Linked DNA regions of Homo sapiens: region 1 is linked to region 2. Evidence: fine-mapped expression QTL. Tissue or cell type: whole blood. Region 2 holds a variant in brackets; the other region holds the start of a gene. All regions are shown on one strand. Distances are between the middles of the regions.

What was found. PIP is the estimated chance that this variant, and not a neighbour inherited with it, causes the effect.
Region 1: it holds the start of CCNT1, and the variant in region 2 is fine-mapped to the expression of CCNT1 in whole blood (INTERVAL, PIP above 0.99).

The regions. Positions count from the first base shown.
Region 1 is chr12:48,713,446-48,719,677 of GRCh38, forward strand. It overlaps CCNT1 (cyclin T1), which reads right to left and starts at 3,262. Exons shown (of 9, transcript NM_001240.4): 1 at 3,070-3,262; 2 at 998-1,079. The coding sequence starts at 3,230. RefSeq lists enhancers at 3,027-3,306, 3,377-4,377, 3,777-4,016.
Region 2 is chr12:48,686,404-48,692,635 of GRCh38, forward strand. It overlaps CCNT1 (cyclin T1), which reads right to left. Exons shown (of 9, transcript NM_001240.4): 9 at 2,055-6,232. Among named protein-coding and RNA genes, the nearest start is that of KANSL2, 7.3 kb to the left of the region's middle. The variant GAA/G (reference allele first, on the strand shown) is at 2,441.

The DNA.
Region 1 (6,232 bases), 27 kb after region 2:
AACTTACATTTACTTCTTTTGCTGTGACCATATTTTATAAACTACTTCAAAATTAATGCCAGGAATGGCGGCTCATGACTGTAATCCCAACATTTTAGAAGGCGGAGGCGGAAGGATCCCTTGAACCCTGGAGTTTGAGACCAGGCTGGACAACACAGGGAGACCCCATCTTCACAAAAAAAATTTTAAAAATTACCAGATATGTTGGCAAGCCTGTGGTCCCAGTTACTTGGGAGGCTACGGCAGGAGGACTGCTTGAGCCCAGAAGGTTAAGGCTGCAATGAGCCATAATCAAATCACTGCATTCCACCATGGACAACAGGGCAAGACCCTGCCTGTCTCCCTACCCCAGCAAGAAAAAGAAAGCTATACCTAAATTCCACATGATTTCCCCTTTAATGTTACTCCTCCAACCCCAAAATGTTGACTTTAGATGTCTGATAATCTGTTTTTTGGGGTTTTTTTTGAAGACAGGGTCTCACTCTGATGCCCAGGCTGGAGTGAAGCGACTCAATCTTGGCTCACTGCATCCTCAACTCCCTGAGTTCAAGCAATCCTCTTGCCAGCTGCTGGAGTAGCTGAGACCACAGATGCATACCACAACACCCAGCTACTTGCTTTTTGTTTTTGTTTTTGATATTTTGTAGAAATGAGGTCTCATTATGTTGCCCAGGCTGGTTTTGAACTCCTGGGCTCAAGTGATCCTCCCATCTCAGTCTCTCAAAGTGCTGGGATTACAGTTGTGAGCCACTGCACCCGGCCTAATCTACTTCTTTAGAGAATCGACATGGATATACTAAATCCACTAGACAAGTAGACACTTAACAGGAAAACTGAAAAGCTGGATTCAGAACAGCAACACAGCACATAATGGAAGTGATCAACCCTAAATTCTAAAGTTCAAGTTACAGTTCAGTAGCAAAGACCAACCACAAATGGAATAGGTAGGTGGAATCAATCACAAAAGGATTATATCATATAAAAAAATTATACTTACATTTCCAGGGAACTGTGTGAAGGACTGAATCATGTAGAATCGATGCATGTATACTATAGCAGTGTTGATAGTCAATTGTGAGCTGAAGTGTTCAAGTTAAGATCCAAAAACAGGCAGGTATAATTCTGGAAAAGATAACCTCTATCTCCCTCCCAAAAGGATGAAATGGCCAAGCAAGTAGATACTACTAAATGAAAATCATACTTATCTCTCCAAATCAAAGAATATGTCTGTTTTCTTTCACCAAATTATTAATCGCCAACTGACACTTAGCACAATGCCTTACACATAACAAATATTTAATATAAATGTACTGAATGAATAAACAAACATCTCAGGATGTATGAATCTAGACAGATTTTTTTAAAAACTATATAAGGCGGCCAGGCGCGGTGGCTCACACTCTGTCGCCCACACTGGAGTGCGGTGGCACCATCTTGGCCCACTGAAACCTCTACCTCCCAAATTCAAGCGATTCTCCTGCCTCAGCTTCCCCAGTAGCTGAGATTACAGGCGCCCACCAACAGACCTGGCTACTTTTTGTATTTTTAGTAGAGACATGGTTTCACCATGTTGGCCAGGCTGGTCTTGAACTCCTGGCCTCAACTGATCGACCTGCCTTGGCCTCCGAAAGTGCTGGTATTACAGGCGCGAGCCACCGCGCCTGGCTGACAACCTTAATGACAACACACATACAAAAAGGAAAGCATTTTAAGGATGCACTGAAATAGAATTTCGAACAAAAAGATTTAACTCCATACTGACAGGATGCTTAGGAAACAAACCTGGACATCAGCAGGAAACAAACTGGCGATAAAACAGACACCCATTTTGAGATGAACACACCCTTAAGATACACACATTACTGTCAGCCACACATTTAAATAGAAGCTGCACCCAAGAAAATTTTCACACGCAGAGTGGAAAGAAATTTAAAACTATACTAGTTTTCTCCACCATAAAATAAGTGTATTTCCTAACAAACAAAAATATGTGGGAGAGGTTACCTCATTTTTTTTTTAATTTTTTTTTTCTGAGACGGAGTTTCACTATTGTTGCCCAAGCTGGAGTGCAGTGGCGCCATCTCGGCTAACTGCAACCTCCGCCTCCCGGGTTCAAGCGATTTTCCTGCGTCGGCCTCCTGACTAGCTGGGATTACAGCTGCCCGCCACTACGCCGGGGTAATTTTTTGTATTTTTAGTAGAGACAGGGGTTTAATCATGTTGGCCAGGCTGGTCTCGAACTCCTGACCTCAGGTGATCCACCCGCCTCGGCCTCCCAAAGTGCAGAGATTACAGGCGTGAGCCACCGCATCCAGCCGTTACCTCATTTTTGAAAATGAAATACATATCATCACTCTAAGTAAGTTAAGGACCCGGTATTTTGTAAACTATTTAAAACATTAGATTCGTGGGTATCCCCTACAAACGTAAACTAACATCTTTCCTCTGAAATTCTATAAAACAGTAGCTACTAACTGAGCATCTGAATGCAAAGCACTGTGCTGGACACAGAATCAAACACAAGAGGTATTATCCCATTTTATAGACAAGACGGCCAAAAATTTGAGAGGTCACTTAAACAGCTAGTAGATGAGGAATGGATTTTGGACCAAGGCTGAGGCATTAATTCTAGTCCACCCTTTATAACACTTTCAGGTACTGAATTTCTCGAAATTTACACACTAGGTTTGGGAGGCAGCCGTCAACAGAGAAACCTCTGCCAGACCTAGACCCCTAGGGCACAGCGGAAAATGAGAATCTTAACGTCACCAGAGCAGATCAGAACACAATGAAGACAGAGTTGGAAGGGCTGGTTAAAACACAAAGCCGGGAAGGATACGAATTCCCAGCAAGGCTGGCGGCACGGGTGAGCGAGCGGGAAATCAACTCTGCCTCGCTTCCCTAGCGCTAACTGAGTTTCAGCCCGCCCCATCGTGGGCTCTCCCAACTAGACATCCAGCTTCTGCCCACCTTCTTCCCCACTTTCGTCCCCCCCACAGAGCCTGAGACCCGGACGCCAGAGCATGGCGGGACCAACTCCAAGGCCGAAGGCCTAGGCCACAAGGATACACGTTAAGACGCTGCCCCATGTCCTGAAGCAGATTGGCCGCCTGCTGGCGATAAGAAAGTTCTTTATCTGGGTCCACGCCAAAACGACGGGATGGGCTATTTTCCAGCTGTTCTCGAGTGAAATACCACCGTTTGTTGTTGTTCTTCCTCTCTCCCTCCATAGTGCTTCAACCAGAAGGCAGCGGCGAAGGCTGCAGGCACTTCCCAGCGTCACCTAAGAGGCGACCCACATCCGCTGTGCGGGGGCAACTGCGACTTGACGAACTTCCGCTAAGCGTCGACCGCCGGGTTGTTACTTGCCTCCGTAGAGGAAGCAAAAGTCAAAGGACCTACTTCCGGAATGCACCTCGCTACACCCCGTAGCCGAGTTAACAGCCAATATGCGACCAGAAAAAACCTTGAGGCGAGGACGCAGGCGCGTCACGTGACCGTTGGGCGGTGGAGTGGGGTTAGAAGTTCTTTCTTAAAAACCGTGTATCTTCCCGCGAGAACCGGATTGAGCGTTGGCGCCCCGGGTCAGGCTGCGAGGCCGCAATTATAGTGGGATGGGGCGGCCGCCCACGCGCCGCTTGGCGGTTCTTACGAGAACTTTGTTTGTGACGGCAGTGGTGATGTAAAATGGGGCAGATGGGCCGGGCGCGGTGGTTCACGCCTGTAATCCCAGCACTTTGGGAGCCCGAAGCGGGCGGATCACGAGGTCAGGAGTTCGAGACCAGCCTGGCCAATATGGTGAAACCCCCGTCTCTACTAAAAATACAAAATTAGCCGGCGTGGTGTCGCGCGCCTGTAGTCCCAGCTACTCGGGAAGCTGAGGCAGGAGAATCGCTTGAACCCGGGAGGCGGAGATCGCAGTGAGCCGAGATCACGCCACTGCACCCCAGCCTCCAGCCTGGGTGAGAAAGCGAGACTCCGTCTCAAAAAAATAAAATAAGTAAAAATGTGGCAGATGAACTTGAAAGAGAAAGTAGGTGAGGCTGTCAGAAACTGAAAAACAGAATCAAATGGTGGGGCTCTTTCGTATATCGGAGCATAAAGCAACTAGAAGGCTGTTACATTGTTGGTAGCAATGTAAAATGCGACAACCCATTTGGAGAGGTCGCTTTAATGTGTAGCCAAAGGCATGAAAACATTCTCACGTTGTTCGCCAGTGATCCAACTTAAAGGAATAAAATGAAATTAATAACATTAATTAAGAGCTTACATGTCCCAGGCACAATACTGACTTAAATATACTGTTTCATTTATTCAGCACAACTCTAAGAGGTAATTTTTAAGTACGTTTGCGAATGGGTGAACTAAAACTGCCCCTTGAGTGTGGAAAGCCTCCACCACTACCCCTCACTTGCACAGATTAGCAAGTTCTTGCCCTCTGTCAAAATATTTCCCAGCTCCTTTGCCGGGCGCGGTGGCTCAAGCCTATAATCCCAGCACTTTGGGAGGCCAAGGCGGGTGGATCACCTGAAGTCGGGAGTTCGAGACCAGCCTGGCCAACATGGTGAAACCTCATCTCTACTGAAAATACAAAAATTAGCCAGGCGTGGTGGCGCACGCCTGTACTCCCAGCTACTCGGGAGGCTGAGGCAGGAGAATCATTTGAACCCGGGAGGCAGAAGTTGCAGTGGGCCGAAATCGCGCCACTGCACTCCAGCCTGGGCAACATTGCGAGACTCCTTCTCAAAAAAAAAAAAAAAAAAAAAGATACATCCCAGCTCCAGCCTCTGATAACTGTTTGGTGCTGGGCAAGATAGTTAACTTCTCTATGCCTCTTTTCTGTGATAATACCTATGTTTTAGATAGTGAAAGGGAGTAAAGATTTAATGAGTAAAAAGTATTTATAATAGTACCTAGTACTTAGAAAATATTCAGTAGCCCTTATTGTTATAATATTTGTTACATTGTATTGAAATTGAAGGCAAGAGCAATGCCTTCATTTTTGTATGGCACTTACCTAGTAAAGCCCTGGCCCTAGTAAATAGTCCATAAATCTTTGTCAGATAAATGTGCAAAACACCCACAATACAGAAACTGAGGCTTTGGGAGTTTGCCCTCACTACACCACTAATAAGTGTAGATCTTAAATCTAATTCCATTGATCTTTCCATTCACGCAAGCTGTATTCCTGCTTTTCTGGAACCATATTCAGTTTACCTTGATTAAATATGGGTAATTTTAGATAGATTTGGATAATATTAGAATCCTTCATCTTGCTTTGATAATATTTTGGGTTTTGTCATTTCTAGGCATGGGTGATCTTACTATGCTTGATTGTCATTCATTCTCAGAAGTATTTCTTTCCATTCAGGTCACCTCTGCCATATACTGCCTGTAGTTAGTATTAGCTCCATTTTACCCTGGAGAAATTGAGGTTCAGGAAGATTTAAATGACTTACTTCTAGTTATAAAGTAAAAGAACTTGGGATTTCAAATTTCTTCCCTCACAGACTCTTTACTATTAAGAGAATAAGCACTTACAAAATAGATTTTTTAGTAGAATAAGCACTTTTTCAGTTATGTAGTCATGTATGTTATCTTTTGAACAGCTGTGTTAGTCCATTTTCACGCTGCTGATAAAGACAAACCCAAGACTGGGCAATTTACAAAGGAAAGAAGTTTAATGGAGAACTCACAGTTCCACGTGGCTGGGGAAGCCTCACAATCATGGCGGAAGGCAAGGAGGAGCAAGTGACATCTTACATGGATGACAGCAGGCAAACAGAGAGCTTGTGCAGGCAAACTCCCATTTTTTTAAAACCATCAGATCTCATGAGACTCATTCACTATCATGAGAACAGCACAGGAAAGACCCACCCCCATAATTCAATCACCTCCCACCGGGTTCCTCCTACCATATGTGGAAATTGTGGGAGTTGCAATTCAAGATGAGATTTGGGTAGGGACACAGTGCCAAACCATATCATTCCGCCCCCAGCCCCTCCCAAATCTCATGTCCTCACATTTCAAAATACAGTCATGCCTTCCCCACAGTCCCCCAAAGTCTCAACTCATTTCAGCATTAACTCAGAAGTCCACAGTCCAAAGTCTCATCCGAGACAAGCAAGTTCCTTCCACCTATGAGCCTGTAAAATCAAAAGCAAGTTAGTTACTTCATAGATACAATGGTGGTACAGGCATTGGGTAAATACAACCATGCCAAATGGGAGAA
Region 2 (6,232 bases):
CTCACGTTTCCTGGAATGATCTTATCCTAGTTATTCCCATGACTTGCTGTCACCTCCTTCAGGTCTTCCCTAAAGGTCATGAAGCTTCTGGTCATGAAGCCTTCCCTAGCCACCTTTTTTCCAATTCCCACAGCCCTAGTTACCTAAACACACACACGTGCTCACACACACACATGCACACACACATCCCTATCCCCTATTCCCTGTTTTAGTCTCCAAAGTGCTTATTATGGCCAGGTGTGGTGGCTCACACCTATAATCCCAACAAGAGTGAAGGAGGCCCAGACGGGCAGATCGCTTAAGCCCAGGAGTTCAAGACCAGACTGGGCAACATAGGGTGACCCCATCTCTAAAAAAATTAGCCAGGCGTGGTGGTGCACACCTGTAGTCCCAGTTACTCAGGAGATGGGAGGATCACTTGAGCCTAGGGAGGTCAAGGATGCAGTGAGCTGTTATCTCACCACTGCACTCTGGCCTGGGAGACAGTGAGACTTCGTCTCAAAAAAAAAAATTTTTTTTAAGTGCTTATCACCACCTAACATACTATGTTTTACTTATTTGTAAATTCTTTGAAGGCAGAATGTTTGTTTACTGCCATATTCCCATTAGTACAGTCCACAGCACTTAGTTTTTTTTTTTTTAACTTTTTTTTCCCGAGACTGGGTATAGATCTATAGCCCAGCAGGAGTGCAGTGGTCAATCATGGCTCACTGCAGCCTCCAATTGCTGGGCTCAAACAATCCTCCCTCCTCAGCCTCCCTAGTAGCTGGGACTATACACTACTGTGCCTGGCTAATTTGTATGTCTGTGTGCAGAGATGGGGTCTCACTTTGTTGCTCAGGTTGGTCTTGAACTCCTGGCCTCAAGCAATCCTCCCACCTCAGCCTCCGAAAGTGTTGGGAAGTAGGTATTATTTTCTAAAGAAGGAATGAATGAAAAGCAGGGGAGTGCTTCAAACCACACCAGAATTCCTAAACTGTCAGCATCTTCCTATTCTATCAGCAACTTCTGCAAAGATTTCCGATTTCATATTCTTTTCAGGAGCGGTATACAGTTTGTAAAATTAGCTACCTTATTTTAGAAAACAGAAGAAACGACTCAAGTGACTTTTCAGAAGTATCATTATTTATTTTTTTCCTTTTAAAGCTTTCAAACTATATCTATTACTAACTTTGTGTAATAAGTATGGAGTACTTTAGCATAAAAGTTCTTTATTTTCAGTGTGTAATTTACAAGAGTTACCTTGTAAATGTGGTTTTATTACGTCTCAGGATGAGTATTCACTATCAATTTTTCCAGGCACTACCAAGAATGTTTTTTTCTTCGAAGTGTATTTTCCTCCAGATACAATGCTATGTCTGTACTAACATGTCAGGCTTTTCAAAGAACCACGTATACAATTATGAATCATGTTGATAATGCTTGCTAGATAAGCAGTACATGCTGCCATCATCTGTTAGTGCTATAATTTTTTTTTTGTACAAGTTACTCTTCCAGGTATTCATGTAACAATACAGAGTGAGGGTTTTTTTCTTCCCTTTGACTACAACATACTTTATACTACTGGGTTTACTGATCGACAAATCTTGGGTCTTTCCAACGGACTCAATTCCCACAGGATCTTGCACAATAAGAAAACAGACTAATACCAAAATTGAAACAAAATTGTAAACATATCAATAAAATTACAGTTAAAGACTAAGGACTAGGCTGGACGCGGTGGCTCATGCCTGTAATCCCAGCACTTTGGGGGGCCGAGGTGGGTAGATCACCTGAGGTCAAGAGTTCGAGACCAGCCTGGCCAACACAGTGAAACCCCGTCTCGACTAAAAATACAAAAATTAGCTGGGCATAGTGGTGGGTGCCTGTAATCCCAGCAACTCAGGAGGCTGAGACAGGAGAATCGCTTGAACCCGGGAAGCAGAGGTTGCAGTGAGCCGAGATCACGCCACTGTACTCTCCAGCCTGGGTGACAGGGCTAGATTCCGTCTCAAAAAAAAAAAAAAAAAGACTAAGGACTAATTTGAGGACAGTACACATAAACAACAATCAAATGAGTGTTTTACCATTAACATTTATTGATGGGATGGATAAATACAGATTGAGAAACATACTTGACAGCAAGATATCAAACTGATAGCCAGACTATAAAATGTATACATCCTTTTTAAATTTTTTGAATTTTTTTACAAAGAGCCCTTACTATAATGGTCACTTACCTCCTATCATTCACATAACAGCAGTAGATATCCCAGGGGTAGCATCCAGAGCTGAGGTGCCCCAAGGAAGACAGAGGCAATGGCAGAATAATATGCTGAGAAAGGACTCTTAAGAGCAATACAAAGAGAACAGACAAAAATCTCACCACAAAATTGTACCTGAGTGACAGATTGGTAAAGTGTTTTACTTTTTTTTTTCTTTTCGCTCTTTGGTCTGACAA[GAA/G]AAGAGTTTTAGGTGTGTGAAGTAGGGTGGGAAAAAAGGTCAGTTTCAAATTCAGTAACATATGGTAACACTAAGTTAGGCTGCTGCATTCTTTTCTTTGGGTACTTAAGCCAGCTGGCACTTCCACTTTGTAACCAATTATATTATGATCAACAACTAATCAGTTAGTTCCTCAGCTTCAACTGAAGAGTTCCTGATTACCTGATGAAGGACATACTTGCTCTGGCTTCAATTAGCATGCTGTCAAGCATCCCTCTCCATGCTTAACATGGCAACACAAAACCCAAGAGTCCTTCTCTTTTTTTCATTAGCCATGAATAAACACTCACAAAGGGGAAGAGTAGACACTGCTTTTAGTAAACGTCCTTTTTCTTTACCTCCCTTTTCCAATGCCAAGTTCATATGAAAAACTTTAGAAACATTAAAATGGAGAACTCTCTCACCCAAAAAGTAATTCTCATTCCAGACTACTCTATCAGGCAGGATTACTGTACCGTGCTTGTTTCAAACTCACATCCACGGAGGGATAAAAAGACAAAATAAAACTTGACAGTGTGATACAACATGAAAATCTCCTAAACCATCAGGAGCAAACACTCAGTTAAAAGCTGGGTGTTAACAAGCAGCAACTCAAGAAACTTGGGGAGGTATCAAAGTCACTGAAAGCTTACTGGAACCTCGGAGGGCTATTTCTCACCATTTGATGAGTTGCATAGACTGCTTAAATTCTCCCAAGACCAAAAGAATAAAATTTGTATTTCAACTGCAAGATGTTCTAGATTCTCTCTTTTCTTAGTATCAAAATAACTCATAAACAAAAAAAATTGTAAATATTAATCAGTTCCCAAAATAACGGAAACACAGATATGTTTAAAATCCAACCATACTGGGATAGACAGGGCCCCTCTACAATTGCCTTTACTTGGAAGCCATGTATGTGGAGGAGTATGCATTTCAATATGGAGAATTAAGTAGCAGAGGTTTAAGATAACTCAGCAGTGATGTCACCATGATTTTATTTCCATATCCTAATCCATTGCTGTTTGCAACTGGAGATTTAAAATTTTTCTGTCAACACTGGTAAAGCCAATAATACTGAACTATGTAGTATACACTAAATCAAAACACTAAAATCATTTTTAAAAAGGAAGAAAAAAGAAGTTGAGGCTCTCTGATATGGACATACACTGATTCATGAATGGGAAGACTAGACTAACACCTAAGTATTTTCTAAACTCAAAAGCATAACTGATACTTCAGAAGACCGATTTGGATCGATGCTTCACTACAGTTCAGCTAACAGCAACACAGGTATCTGATTAAAAGCCTTAAGGACAATCCACAGGTATTTGTTTTTGCCAACACGAGTCTAGCAAAATTTTAGGAATGAGATTTACAGAAGCTGAGGCTCCAGGCCTACTTATCACCATCACTTATTTTTGACAGTCTAGGTTACATGGAGAAACAAAAAGCCATATTTATCAGACTAACTTTGGATGTATAAATCTCATTTCTCACCCTTTGAAGGTACAAGGATAGGAAAGACACATAGAGCTCAGAAACCACACAGCCCTTAAAAACCTTAAGTTTATGGAATTTGGACAATACACATGCTAGTTGACAGGCACATCTGTTAACCCAAAAACAAAGCAGCAGCTTCATGCAGAGCCCACAAGGAGCTTCATGACATATGCATAGATCTAAAAACAGACACTGTACGTATCTTAAGACAGTACCAGGAGGCATTAACACAGAAAGGTCTCTAAACTGACCTATGTCAGCAATGATCTACTAGTGCAAAGGCCGGACTACACGGCACAAAGCAACTCTTAGGCCCTAGTAAGCACTTTTTTCTAGTTCACTCCTGGCAAAGTTCTAAGGAACTTTACTACAGTACGGCCATGGATAACTGCTATGAGGCCAAATGATTATGTGCCTCTGTGGTAAAGGAGTGCATGTGATTAGAAAATATGTGACATTTGATGAGAGTAACTAAAAGCTGGAAAAGACATTTTTCAAAATCAAACCAGTGATCATCAAGTCCACAAAGATACAGATGCAGACTAAATGGCACATTCCCTTTTGGAAACAGACTCCAACAAACAAAATCTAAATAAATAGAAGCCCTAAATGTACTAAACCACAACTATATATCTACCAATTATCTAACACAACATAGAAAATATCAAGGGGAAAGAGGAAAATGTCATCTATAAAGTGAAGTGACACTCTAAGTCAAGAAGTATTAATGATTTACAGGTCAACAGAGAGCTCCTCGTTTTATACCCAGCAATGGCAGGAACTCTAGACAGTTCAAATATGCAAGATGCAGGGCACTAACCCACCGTCAGTTAACGTTTACTCCTGCCTACAAATTCCTTTCTATATTAGGCCAGTACATCATCAATTCCAACAGCCACAATTTTCTTCCCAACCTGTTCCTGGCAAGTAGCAGCATAAGTACAACTCCTGTCTCCCTATGACTTCCAAATGAAAAATAATTCGACCTCTCCCTAAAAAATCCTTGGCATGAAGTAAGCTGCAATCAAATCATGAAAACAAACTCAAATTGAACCACCTTTTCCAGAGCAAAAAAAATGCAATGAAGATCAAAGAATATCTCATTAAATGATCTCTGGCTAGGTAGTTTTCAGTGGTTAGACAACTAACTTAGAATTCTTTCTAGCCAAGATTTTCTGAAAGATTTATTAAAAATGTTCACTCCTAATATCTGGGATAATCAAGCCTCCATAACAACAGGACTCTTGACCTATTTTTATAAAGGACTTAGAAATCTTAAGAACCTCGATCAAGAACCTAAAGCTACCAAAGATGAACAATCTAAACACAATAGTATCCATTGGCTAGGCTTTGCTCATTCTCATGGCACCAGTACTGTTAAATTCACAAGCTCCAATCTCAAGTCATATAGGCTGCAAAAACTTGAGGATGTAGCTGTTTCCCTTCGGATATACACATAAAAAGCATGTCTTACATTTATAATGTAATTTTTAAAACAATGTTCTAAACTTCCAAATCACAATTTCATTGTTTTTAGTATCCTCTAGCTTCTCCCATATGGTTTGGGCTTTCACAGGCAGGATATACATAGCACATTCCCCATCTCTTAGAGACCTTAAGACTGCTCTCATTTGAACACTTTCCCAAAGCCTCACTTGAAAAAAAAGACACACCCAATTCTGTAGGGCAGAAGCTGGCCTTGCTCGCCAACCCTCCTTCCTCAACCCCATCTCTGTTTTGCACAAAAACAAAAAAAGGGGTAAAAAGGAAGTTCTCATAATAAGGTTAAGAGTCAGGGTGTTGGCTGTACTTGCCCAAACTACAAATTAGAGGGCTACTACTCAATTATAACATAAAGAAAGGGAAAAATACCATGTCAAATACATGCCTCTTCCTTTATGTTCTCAAGGCCAACCATGTTTTTCTCTAGTAGACTGTTGGAAAATGAAAACGGTAAGGAACAGGGAGGGAAGATAAAACATTATTTTTAAACACACACACTTAAAAACACACATACCCACACTTACATACACACTTAAAAGTCTGAAAAAAGTGGCCTGAGCCTATTTCAGAACTCCTAGCCAAAAACCTAGCCTCCCACCCACCCTCACACATTCCCACCCTCCAATCCCACCCACCAGGAGTTACTGCTATGTATCATATACACACAGCAAAATCCCTATCCCCTTCCCAATTATATAAAAAAACTAAACAGATAACTTACTTTCTTTAAATTATTAAGTCTATTAAAAGATTTGACGTTTAAATA